3 linked regions of the Homo sapiens genome follow. The protein of the gene in region 1 purifies or fractionates together with the protein of each later gene. This does not show direct contact. Each region holds a gene or a part of one and is shown in the gene's direction. Other genes may lie near its edges.

Region 1 (3,656 bases):
TATTTCCATCCATGAGGGCAGAGCCTGCATGACCTAACCACCTCTTAAAGGTCCCACCTCTTAATACTGTTACAATGGCAATTTTTGAGACAAGGTCTTACTCTGTCACCCAGGCTGGGGCACAGTGGCATGATCACAGCTCACTGCAGCTTTGAACTTCTGGGTTTAAGCAGTCTTCCCACCTCAGCCTACCAAGTAGCTGGGACTACAGGCATCTACCACCACACCTAGCTTTTTTTTTTTTTTTTGGAGGTGGGATCTTGCTATATTGCCTAGGCTGGTCTTGAAAGCCTGAGATCAAGCAATCCTCCCACCTTGGCCTCCTAAAGTGCTGGGATTACAGATGTAAGCCACCACGCCAAGCCTCTTGTAATGACTTTTAACAGACCCTACTTTTTGATCATGTGCCCAGAGTTAATATTCCTAAATGTTCCTGAATCACAGGTCTTTTTCCTCCTAAAAAGACCTACCTGCTACCAATTTAAATTTATATATTTTTTTGAGGATTAAAAGAAGTATCTTTTAATGTTTCAAATTTCTGAAATAGTAACAAAACAGTTTGTATAGAGTATCTACTATAGACAAAATACAACACTGGGTAGGGAAAGGAGATTTTAAACAAACCAAAGACGTGGAGTGATTGTTATTAGGAAGATTTTGGTGAGGCTGGGGTGAGGAGAAGGCAGAGTAGAGCACTTATGGAAACTGAAAATGAACTATTTCCTATGCACAGAGCAATAGGCTTATATGAATGCAGGATAATTTAAGTACCTAAATATTTCTCATTAGGAAGAAAATCTGGAGCCCCAAATATGTAATTATTAGTTACTATCTTCGTTCATTTTTGTTGCTAACAAAATACCTGAGACTGGGTAATTTATAAAGAATAGAAATTTATTTCTCACCGTTCTGGAGACTGGGAAATCCAAGATCAAGGCACCAGTAGGTTCAGAGTCTGGTGACATCCATGTCTGTGTGTGTCCAACATGGTGCCTTGTTGATGTGTCTTCTGGAGGCAAATAAACTTCATCATATGAATTTTGGGAGAACATATTCAGACCATAGCAGTTACCTAAGGGGAAGTGTTCTGTTCTCTATTGACCCCACTGGGCCAAATAAGTACAGATGAAAGCAACACATGTTTAAACTTTTTTTTTTTTTTTTTTTTTAATGAACATCTTTAAAAGAGGTGGTACATATCAGGAGGCCGAGGCGGGTGGATCACGAGGTCGGGAGATTGAAACCATCCTGGCTAACACGGTGAAACCCTGTCTCTACTAAAAATACAAAAAAAAAAAAAATTAGCTGTGCTTGGTGGCAGGCGCCTGTACTCCCAGCTACTCGGGAGGCTGAGGCAGGAGAATGGTGTGAACCCAGGAGGCGGAGCTTGCAGTGAGCCGAGCTCGTGCCACTGCACTCCAGCCTGGGCAACAGAGCGAGATTCCGTCTCAAAAAAAAAAAAAAAAAAAAAGGGTGGTACATATCATGGCAGTAAAAGAAAACCAGTTTTTATAGCACAGGGCTATAAGAAATAGTTCATAAACTAAATAGGTCAAGAAATTGATGTTTTTAAAAGCCCAGTTCCCTTAGTTGACTCAAAGGTGGAATATCTGGTATATTTTGAAAGGTCTAGGACAATATCCTGTCCCCAAATTCTCCCTTACTATCTTATAATTCCTAGAATTCCAGCATTACAGATTTCTTACCTCCTTTAGAGTCTTAAAGATTTTATGTCACTCAAAATCCTGATTTAAAATGCATCTAGTGCTGAAAGGATTACTACCTTAAGACGCTTCTTTTTTTTTTTTTTTTTAAACAGTCTTGCTCTGTTGCCCAGGCTAGAGTGCAGTGGTGCAATCTCAGCTCATTGCAACCTCCATCTCCTGGGTTCAAGTGATTCTCCAGCCTCAGCCTCCCAAGTAGCTGGGATTACAAGTGCGCACCACACCCAGCTAATTTTTGAAGTTTTAGTAGAGACAAAGTTTTACCATGTTAAACAGGCCAGGCTGGTCTCAAACTCCTGACCTCAAGTGATCTGCCCCCTTCAGCCTCTCAAAATGTTGGGATTACAGGTGTGAGCCACTGCACCCGACCCACTTTAGTTAATACTTTGTGAGTGAAAGGGACTTTATGAATAAATGTATTGAGGATGTTAGTGTACTAGGAGGTATTAGGCATTGAAGAAAAGAGTGGAGGATGGCAAAGACACCTATACCTAATAATTTTTCCAGAGTGAGAAGTCTTCCTTAGAAGATTTTCCCTGCATGAAGATTTTTTTCCCCTTCTGGATTTATGTGCATAAATAAACATAAGTCATTTTCATGTTATGCTTTGATCTGTTCTTTCATTTGGAGACAGCTTAATGAGGTGGTAGATTAGCTGCCCAGTGCAATTCGAGCATATGCATATGGTCTCACCTTATGGAGTGCGTGGCATAATTAGTTCACAATAAAATGTTACTCTGAAACACTGATCAAATCTGCCTAACATAGCATGGGCAGTACATTCTGGCTCAACCACTAGTTTGCTGAAGAACCCTAAACAGTCATCTACAATGATGTTGCAAAGTTGGGTGAGGATGAAGAGAGTCAAAATGTCGAAAATCTTTCACGTGGCCCCAGTGAATATTCAGTAAATACTCATTTTCTTCCTTCATTCCCATTCATTCATTGTGGAGATCCATGTGTCAAATAATAATTTCCTAACTCTGGTGATGATAGTTAACATTTTCTAAGCATTTACTATGAGCCAGGCACTCTCTTTTTTATTTTTATTTTAAGTTCTGGAATACATGTGCAGGACATGCAGGTTTGTTACATGGTAAACGTGTGCCATGGTGGTTTTCTGCAACTATCAACCCGTCATGTAGGTATTAAGTCCAGCATTCATTAGCTATTTATCCTGATGCTCTCCCTCTCCCCACCCCCAACAGGCTCCAGTGTGTGTTGTTCCCCTCCCAAGCCAGGTACTTTTGTAAGTGACTTATATATACCATCTCATTTAAGCCCCATAGCTACCCTTCTGAAGTTGGCAGTGCCAGAAAGTCAGGTGTCCCTTGTTTTTGAAAGTCAGGGCTGACCTCTGCAGTTTGTTCTCATTCTATAGGAATTATAGTAATCTGATCCAATAACATGCATGGATTTTTACCTTTCAAATGTCACACCTTATACAAACATTCAAGAGGGTGTTAACAAATCAGCCAACAATATAAAAATACCTTAATTTAACATTTTAAATCATCATCCTAAATAAAATTCATGCATCGGAGAGATGATACTTAACTTTTTAGAAAGAAAACATTTGAAAGCTATTTTCTTTCTCTACCTCACACCAACCCCAGTACTTGGCCATCCTTATTCCCCTGGAATTTCACCTCTTTACGTGCAGAACAATATACACAAAGATAAAAATGAACCTACAACCACTTTCATACAGGGCAGTAGATGCTCTCTGTCGTATTCTAAGAGATTTTGTGCGTGTTTTTCACAGTCATGTCTCATTATTTACTCCTCATGAGAGCCCTTTTGCAAAATAGAAATGGCTGGTGATTCTTGTCCTAGAATCATCAGGGGATGAAACAGCCTAGGAGGGGGTCCAGCACTGGTCCCTGGATATCATTCCCATTTGCCCCCGCAAAGTCAAGTCTTGGATGTATC
Region 2 (3,656 bases), on another chromosome or scaffold:
GGCTTTGTCTTGAGTGCAATAATGTAGCCTTGAAAAATTTGCAGCAGGAAGGGATGACACAGGCAAGGGAGACTGGTTAGGAGGCTATTGAGTTATTTAATATGAGAACGCAGTGGTAAAAGGGTGGGCTTTATCCATTCTCTATTAGCCTCCTCAAATCCATTTCAGATAAACTTAAGTTTAAACAGAGTATTTGCTGAACAAATTCAACTTCAGATACACCAGATCCCCTTCCAGTCCCATTTCCATATATCCCTATATTTACATACTCATTTTTGAGGCAGAGTTGAACCTTTGAATAAAGCAGTCGAAATTAAAAGTTCAAAAATACATTTCTTATATACTTAGTTGGTGATGATTTGTAAATACGAGAACTATATTCTTCTTTATAGGACTACATTGAGTGTGCCGAAAAATTATACGATGCCAAAGTGGAGCGAGTTGACTTTACGAATCATTTAGAAGACACTAGACGTAATATTAATAAGTGGGTTGAAAATGAAACACATGGTGAGTATTGAAATACCCTATTTTTCTACAAGATTTGTCAGTTATATGTGAATACTGGGAACAAAAGCTGGGAGTCTTTTGTACATACAAGGAACAGCTCCTCCTAGTTCAAAGTAATGATTGCTGCTACTTAAAATTGCTTTAGTATTTGTCTGCAATGTGGTTTGGAATAATCTTAATAATTTGAATGCTTTGTACTTTTCAGAAGTTCAGTCTTTTACATTATCTCATTTAATTGGCAAAACCCTGCAGGACAAACATATTATTGTGACCACTTCATATATGAATAACAAGCTGAGTTAATTTGATAAATTAACCTCAATATCTCACCCTCGTTAGTGAACAAAAACTAAGAGTTATTATTTTCTTATTACTTTCAATGACCACATTATTATTTTCAATGACCACAGCATAACATTTCATTTAATAATCAACCTATTTTTTAAAGATAGGGCTGATTTTCATACTTTATAATTGCTTTATGGACTGAATCTTATTAAAGCTATAACATTCTACTGTCAAAGAAATGTATTTTCATGATATTGCTTTTTCCAAGGATGTATAGTATATCTCTCATTTAAAAATGTTCTTTATTTACCAAAATAATTTATGTAACAAAGGTAGTACCTTCCAGAAAAAGTACAGCTCTTTATTGGTAAGTCTCTGTCACAACTAAAAACGTAATTCCAGCTAATGTTCTGGTTTAGTGCAAAGCAAATAAAGAAATTTATTAATCCTTGCTTTGTTCATCAACCAATTCCAAAGCTAGTAGTTGTTTCATTACCTAAGGGTTGGCCTTGATTTGTACTCTAAATATTGTACCTGTATTTACTAAGCCTAGCTGTGCCTCAGAAATATGATATAATATATCTTGCACTTTTAAATGCAAACTTTCAGCAGCATACACTTAGTCCTGGGACTAAGAATGCAGTGTATAAATTTTCTTTTTATTCATTCATTCCTCATTATATTCATAGTGGGTTACTTTGATGTTTAGCCATCACCTGTTTCATATATAGCACTTATAAATCAAGACAAACTATGTAATTATTACTCTTCTAAAATCTAGGTGGGATTCTATTTAATATTTAACATAAGGGTGTCAGATTGCTAACAACTTTTTCTATTTAGACTAGTTATTTATTTCTCTTCCTTTCTCATGTAAATCTATGCATAATTACTCTAATTTTTCATAAGCATATCTACTCAATATTTATTTGAGGAAGCACTTTAAAATGTTGCCAATATTCTAAACAACCCTACCCAGGTCTTGAAGCCCACATCCTCTACACAATATCAGAGCCATCCTTTTGAAAGGCAAATCAGATCCATCATGACCATGACCTTTCTTGTCTTTCAATGAATCCTGAGCAATTATTTCCCATCATCTTCAAAATAATCCACAATTCTTACCAGACATTCAAGCCTCTTCATTATCAGGCCCTTGCTTCCAATCTTGCCAACCTTATTCTCCCCGACAAATACACCTTGCTCTTTCAGGTTTCTGTGCCTTTGAATAAATAGTCTCTGCTTTATGGAAGCTCTTCCTGCTCCCCACTGTTCTTCAGCTAAAGCAGATAGCCACAGAAAAAGTTGGGTGACTTTAATCTGTGCTCCCACAGTGCACTGAGGTCAGACCTCTATGTTACTGGTGGGTTACAACTGCTCTTTGGATGTTGACTCTTCTGTGCTGGACTGGGAGCTCAATGATGGCACAGGCTATGTCTTTCATATTTGTAATTCAAATATGCAGAATAGTGCATAGCATCCAGCAAAAATTTCATTTATGTGGAATGAAGGAGGGCATTACCTTTCAATGGATTGAAGTACTGTAGTAGCAAAAGGTGGCCTAGTCAATGCAGTAAAGGCACTTTGGTACCTATGAGCAGGGACCCTGGGGTTGTCTCCCTGGGTTGGAATCCTATTGCTATCACTTTCTTGTTGTGTGTCTTAATCTCTTTGTGCCTTAGCTTCCTCAACAGGAAATGGAAACAATAATAGTGCCTACCTCACAGGGATTATGTAAGGATTAAACCAAAGATTGCCTTTAAAGGGCCTAGAAAGTGCTGGACACATTAATTGCTCATAGGTTATTCTTAATATTCTTATTGGTGTTATTATGTGTTAAGAAAAAAACTTCATACCAATTAATGGTCTTTTTAAATCATTTTTAAAATTATATTAAAATAAACATTTTTCCCTCAATTTTTTTTTCAAAAGGCAAAATCAAGAACGTGATTGGTGAAGGTGGCATAAGCTCATCTGCTGTAATGGTGCTGGTGAATGCTGTGTACTTCAAAGGCAAGTGGCAATCAGCCTTCACCAAGAGCGAAACCATAAATTGCCATTTCAAATCTCCCAAGGTATGTCGTCAATCTCCTATTTAATTTAGAACTTTTCCACAATCGTATTCCTTTGCAGGACTGTGATAGTTACATAGTAAACTCTAGGTTCACCGTTTTAAACCCATTTCTTCTTTTGCATTACCAATATCATATGGTCAGTTGCTTTATAAAGCAAACTTTCTATTTTCCCTGTCATGCAGGCTATGAAACACCACCAAACGTGTCTTGTAAATTGGTATTCTTTAAAATACATTCAAAATTGAAAGAAGTGGTATGAATGTATCTTAAGATATTATAATTGGAGACCTATAAGAAAATATATGACAAAAGTGTATTTTTCATTTTTCATTTTTTTAACCATGAGGTCTATACTTAAAATCATTTACCATCAATGATTTTCCTGAGTCACAGCAGGGAATGTGTTCTCTTTTGCAAGGGGAAAAGTTATATTTAGTAAAGTTATGCATTTCCAAGTACAAGCCATATGTATTTCTTCATTTAGTTCTGTTTTTGATCTAAAACATCTTATTGCCAACCTTTATAAAACATATATTCTTGGGTTTTAAAATCAATTTGTACACAGTAATCTTAGTACAGCAGAAACAACAAAGCTCTTGCAGTCAGGAATGTTGTATTGGGGCCCCTGCCTTGCTTCACAGAAGCTGCATTCCTGTTTCATGTGTTATTCTTTTTCTCCTAATTTCTTTTTATTTTAAAAAGCATTACTATATCATAATATTGTTTTAAACACTCTTCCTGCTAGTCCACACACCCTATGTAATGTAGCTATAGCAGACAGCT
Region 3 (3,656 bases), on another chromosome or scaffold:
ATCCAACCCACAATAAGAGAAGTATTTTTGTATCATGGCCCAATAATAAAGTGTGTGTGTGCACAACTGAAAAAGTTTTCATCTAAAATACTTTCTTACCAGGTACAGTGAACCCTGATATTTTTATTCAAGTCTAGTCTCTCTTCATTTTTATGAGTTGTTACAGTGGGACCATTTAGTGTGACATTCCATTGGGTCATTCTCTGCAATTTGAAATACAGTGGATTAGGACTAGGTGAAGGAGTCAGCCATCAGGAGGAAGGACACCTTGGCCTTGAGTCTTCTGGGACAAGGCTTAGGTGGGGTGCGGAAAGAGACCCTTCTTTATTCTCAGCACCCTTTATACCACATTCTCCTGGCTCTTCTCCTTTCCAGTCACCTTTTCTGCTCCTCTTCCTTTTCTGGATAAATCCAGGTGTTCTCTAGGACTCTTCTCTCAGTGCTTCTTTGGTCTTGCTGCTCTACCCTCTTGACCTGGGCTTTCTAAGGTACCCATGGCCTCAACCACCACCACAGTCTAACAAGTCCAAATCTCCTGTATTATTATTTCAGAGTAGCAGCATCATAGCATCACTGTCTACATGGTCTGATCCATCCTCCTCCTTTATCCCCTGTGTCCAATTAGTGACCAAATCCCTAATTAAGTCTTGCCCCCTGTCTTAGTCTGTTTTATGATACCATAACTGAATACCACAGACTGGGTAATTTATAATGAACAGAAATTTATTTGGCTCATGCTTCTGGAGGCTGGGAGGTCCAAGATTGAGGAGCTGCATCTGGTGAGGGCCTTCTTGCTGTGTCACCTCATGGTGGAAAGTAAAAGAACAAGAGAGCTTAGGCAAAAGAGGGGGTTGGGAGAAAGAAACCAGACTAATCATTTTATCAGGAGAACCCACTCCTGCAATAACAGCATTAATCCATTTGTGAGGGCAGAGCTCTCATGACCTAATCACTTCCTGAAGTTTCACCTCTCAATACTGTTGCATTGGGGATTATGTTTCCAACATATGTACTTTGAGGGACACATTTAAACCACAGCATCTCCCATTCTATTCCACCTCCACACTGGACTCCTACTCCCAGTCTTTGCTCCCACTGTTCTTCAGTCCATTCTCTACCCTGCCACCAAAATGACTTTTGTAAAGAGAAATCTACTCTTATAACTTGTCTTTTTACAAACCGTATACCTTGCCTACAGGGAGGCCTGAGCTCCAACTTTTGCCAGAAGGATGAGGTTCAGAGACATGATTTAGCTTAATAAGTTCAAGGTTTTTTACAGTCTGACCCCATGCAGCCTTTTTTTTTTTTCCTTTTGTTTTGAGACAGTCTCATTCTGTCGCCCAGGCTGGAGTGCAATGGCACGATCTTGGCTCACTGCAACCTCCGCCTCCCAGGTTCAAGCGATTCTCCTGCCTCAGCCTCCCCAGTAGCTGGGACTATGGGCTAATGTTTGTATTTTTAGTAGAGAGGGGTTTCACCTGTTGGTCAGGGTGGTCTCGAACTCCTGACCTCAGGTGATCCACCCGCCTTGGCCTCCCAAAGTGCTGGGATTACAGGCGTGAGTCACTGCACCCGGCCACCAAGCAGCCTTACCTTTGTCAGTTTCTACTACTACTCTCTTGGACAAATTGTCTTTTGTGTCTCCTTGCTTGTGTCCTCCTTTTCTCTTACACAAACTCCTTATTTCGAGATCCAATTCAGATGTATCTTCCTGTTGAAATTCCTGTCATTTTTGGTGATGCCCCTTCAGAGTTTTCGTTCCTTCTACTGCATTTCTTTTTTTTTTTTGAAACAGAGTTTCACTCTTGTTGCCCAGGCTGGAGTGCAATGGCGCGATATCAGCTAACCACAACCTCCACCTCCTGGGTTCAAGCGATTCTCCTGCCTCAGCCTCCCGAGTAGCTAGGATTACAGGCATGCGCCACCACACCCGGCTAATTTTGTATTTTTAGTAGAGACAGGGTTTCTCCATGTTGGTCAGGCTGGTCACGAACTCCCAACCTCAGGTGATCTGCCCACCTCAGCCTCCCAAAGTGATTCCTTCTACTGTATTTCTATAGCAGACATCTACTGTTGCTACATCCATGGTTGAGCTCTCTTCAATGTTCTATAAGCATCTCTTGACATAATGTTTGAGACCTTTCTTGTGAACAGGGCCATATCTTAGTAGTCTGTGTACCCAGCAACAAAACATAGCTATCAGGCACTCAGAGGTACTGTTAAATATACTTACTTAATAAGAGGCAGATATGAATCAAGAGGACAGAGATTTTATATTAGGCTTATAAGCAGGTCTTCATCAAAATGATGGTGTCAGGTTGGGCATGGTGGCTCATGCCTGTAATCCAGCACTTTGGGAGGCCAAGGCATGCGGATTACCTGAGGTCAGGAGTTTGAGAGCAGCCTGGCCAACACAGTGAAACTCTGTCTCTACTGAAAAAAAAAAAAATTAAAAATTAGCCAGGTGTGGTGGCGGGCACCTGCAATCCCAGCTAATCGGGAGGCTGAGGCAGGAGAATCGCCTGAACCCAGGAGGCAGAGGTTGCAGTAAGCTGAGTTCGAGCCATTGCACTCCAGCCTGGGCAAAAAGAGTGAAACTCCGTCTCAAAAAAAAAAAAAAAGGAAGTGATGGTGTCTGCTTCTTTTGCAGTGATCGTAAACTTGTTGATAAAGAAGATATCGACACTAGCAGCAAAGGAGGCTGTGTCCAACAGGCTACTGGCTGGAGGAAAGGGACAGGCCTGGGATATGGCCATCCTGGATTGGCTTCATCAGAGGAGGTAAAATGGTTTCCATCTTTTGGGGGGTGACATGAACCTGGAATGTAATTAACTTTCACTTTCTGGCCTAGAGTGATGTCTTTGCCATTTTGCTGGGCTTTCTCTACTGCTGGGATAGGACATGAGAGTTGAACACTTTAGCCTTGAATACTGGGTTATAGCTTGGCAGGCTGGGCCCTTTGCAGTTTGGAGTTAGGAAGAGAAGGAAGGAGTTGGAATGGATTTCATCATACTTTTACATGGAGTAAATAGTAGAGCAGTATCTGAGGCAGTTTGAGACTGAAGAATCATTTGGGCAAAAGAACCAGGGAATCAGCAATGAAAGGTACAGAGGCATCTCTGAGAGGGACTGTCAGCGGAAGTCTTTGGTGGCTAAAATTTAAGGAGCATGTTGTTCTGGTTCCCATGAAGGACTTTGCCCCTCATATTTCAAGAGCCTCTAGAAAAGGTGATAAGAGGAAACATTACCCATTTTGTGTTGGCTTGCTTCTCCTCTGAAAATGCCAACCATAAGAGATTGGCTTATTTCTCTCCTACCGAGTTTCTCATATCTCTGGTATTAAAGCCTGTATCTTGCAATCATAGCATCACCACCCACCTTAATTCATCTTGGGTATTTGTTTAATAATGAAAGATTCTTTTCTTTTTTTTTTTTTGAGACAGAGTCTTGCTCTGTCGCCCAGGCTGGAATGCAGTGGTGCGATCTCAGCTCACTGCAACCTCCTCCTCCCAGGTTCAAGCAATTCTCCCACCCCAACCTCCTGAGTAGCTGGGATTACAGGTGCATACCACCATACCCAGCTAATTTTTGTGTTTTTAGTAGAGACAGAGTTTTGCCATGTTGGCCAGGCTGGTCTCGAACTCCTGGCCTCAAGT

Evidence for each region.
Region 2: the proteins of EPHX4 (region 1) and SERPINB7 purify together in Homo sapiens (affinity purification with mass spectrometry; one large-scale study listed by BioGRID and IntAct). This does not show direct contact.
Region 3: the proteins of EPHX4 (region 1) and RBM6 purify together in Homo sapiens (affinity purification with mass spectrometry; one large-scale study listed by BioGRID and IntAct). This does not show direct contact.

The regions. Positions count from the first base shown.
Region 1 is NC_000001.11:92,032,850-92,036,505, forward strand, and holds part of EPHX4 (epoxide hydrolase 4), read left to right. Parts: intron 1-3,656.
Region 2 is NC_000018.10:63,795,874-63,799,529, forward strand, and holds part of SERPINB7 (serpin B7), read left to right. Parts: intron 1-392; coding exon 393-510; intron 511-2,730; coding exon 2,731-2,873; intron 2,874-3,656. UniProt on the Homo sapiens protein: Might function as an inhibitor of Lys-specific proteases. Might influence the maturation of megakaryocytes via its action as a serpin.
Region 3 is NC_000003.12:50,072,551-50,076,206, forward strand, and holds part of RBM6 (RNA-binding protein 6), read left to right. Parts: intron 1-2,622; coding exon of another isoform or gene 2,623-2,629; exon of another isoform or gene 2,630-2,644; intron 2,645-2,650; coding exon 2,651-2,780; intron 2,781-3,656. UniProt on the Homo sapiens protein: Specifically binds poly(G) RNA homopolymers in vitro.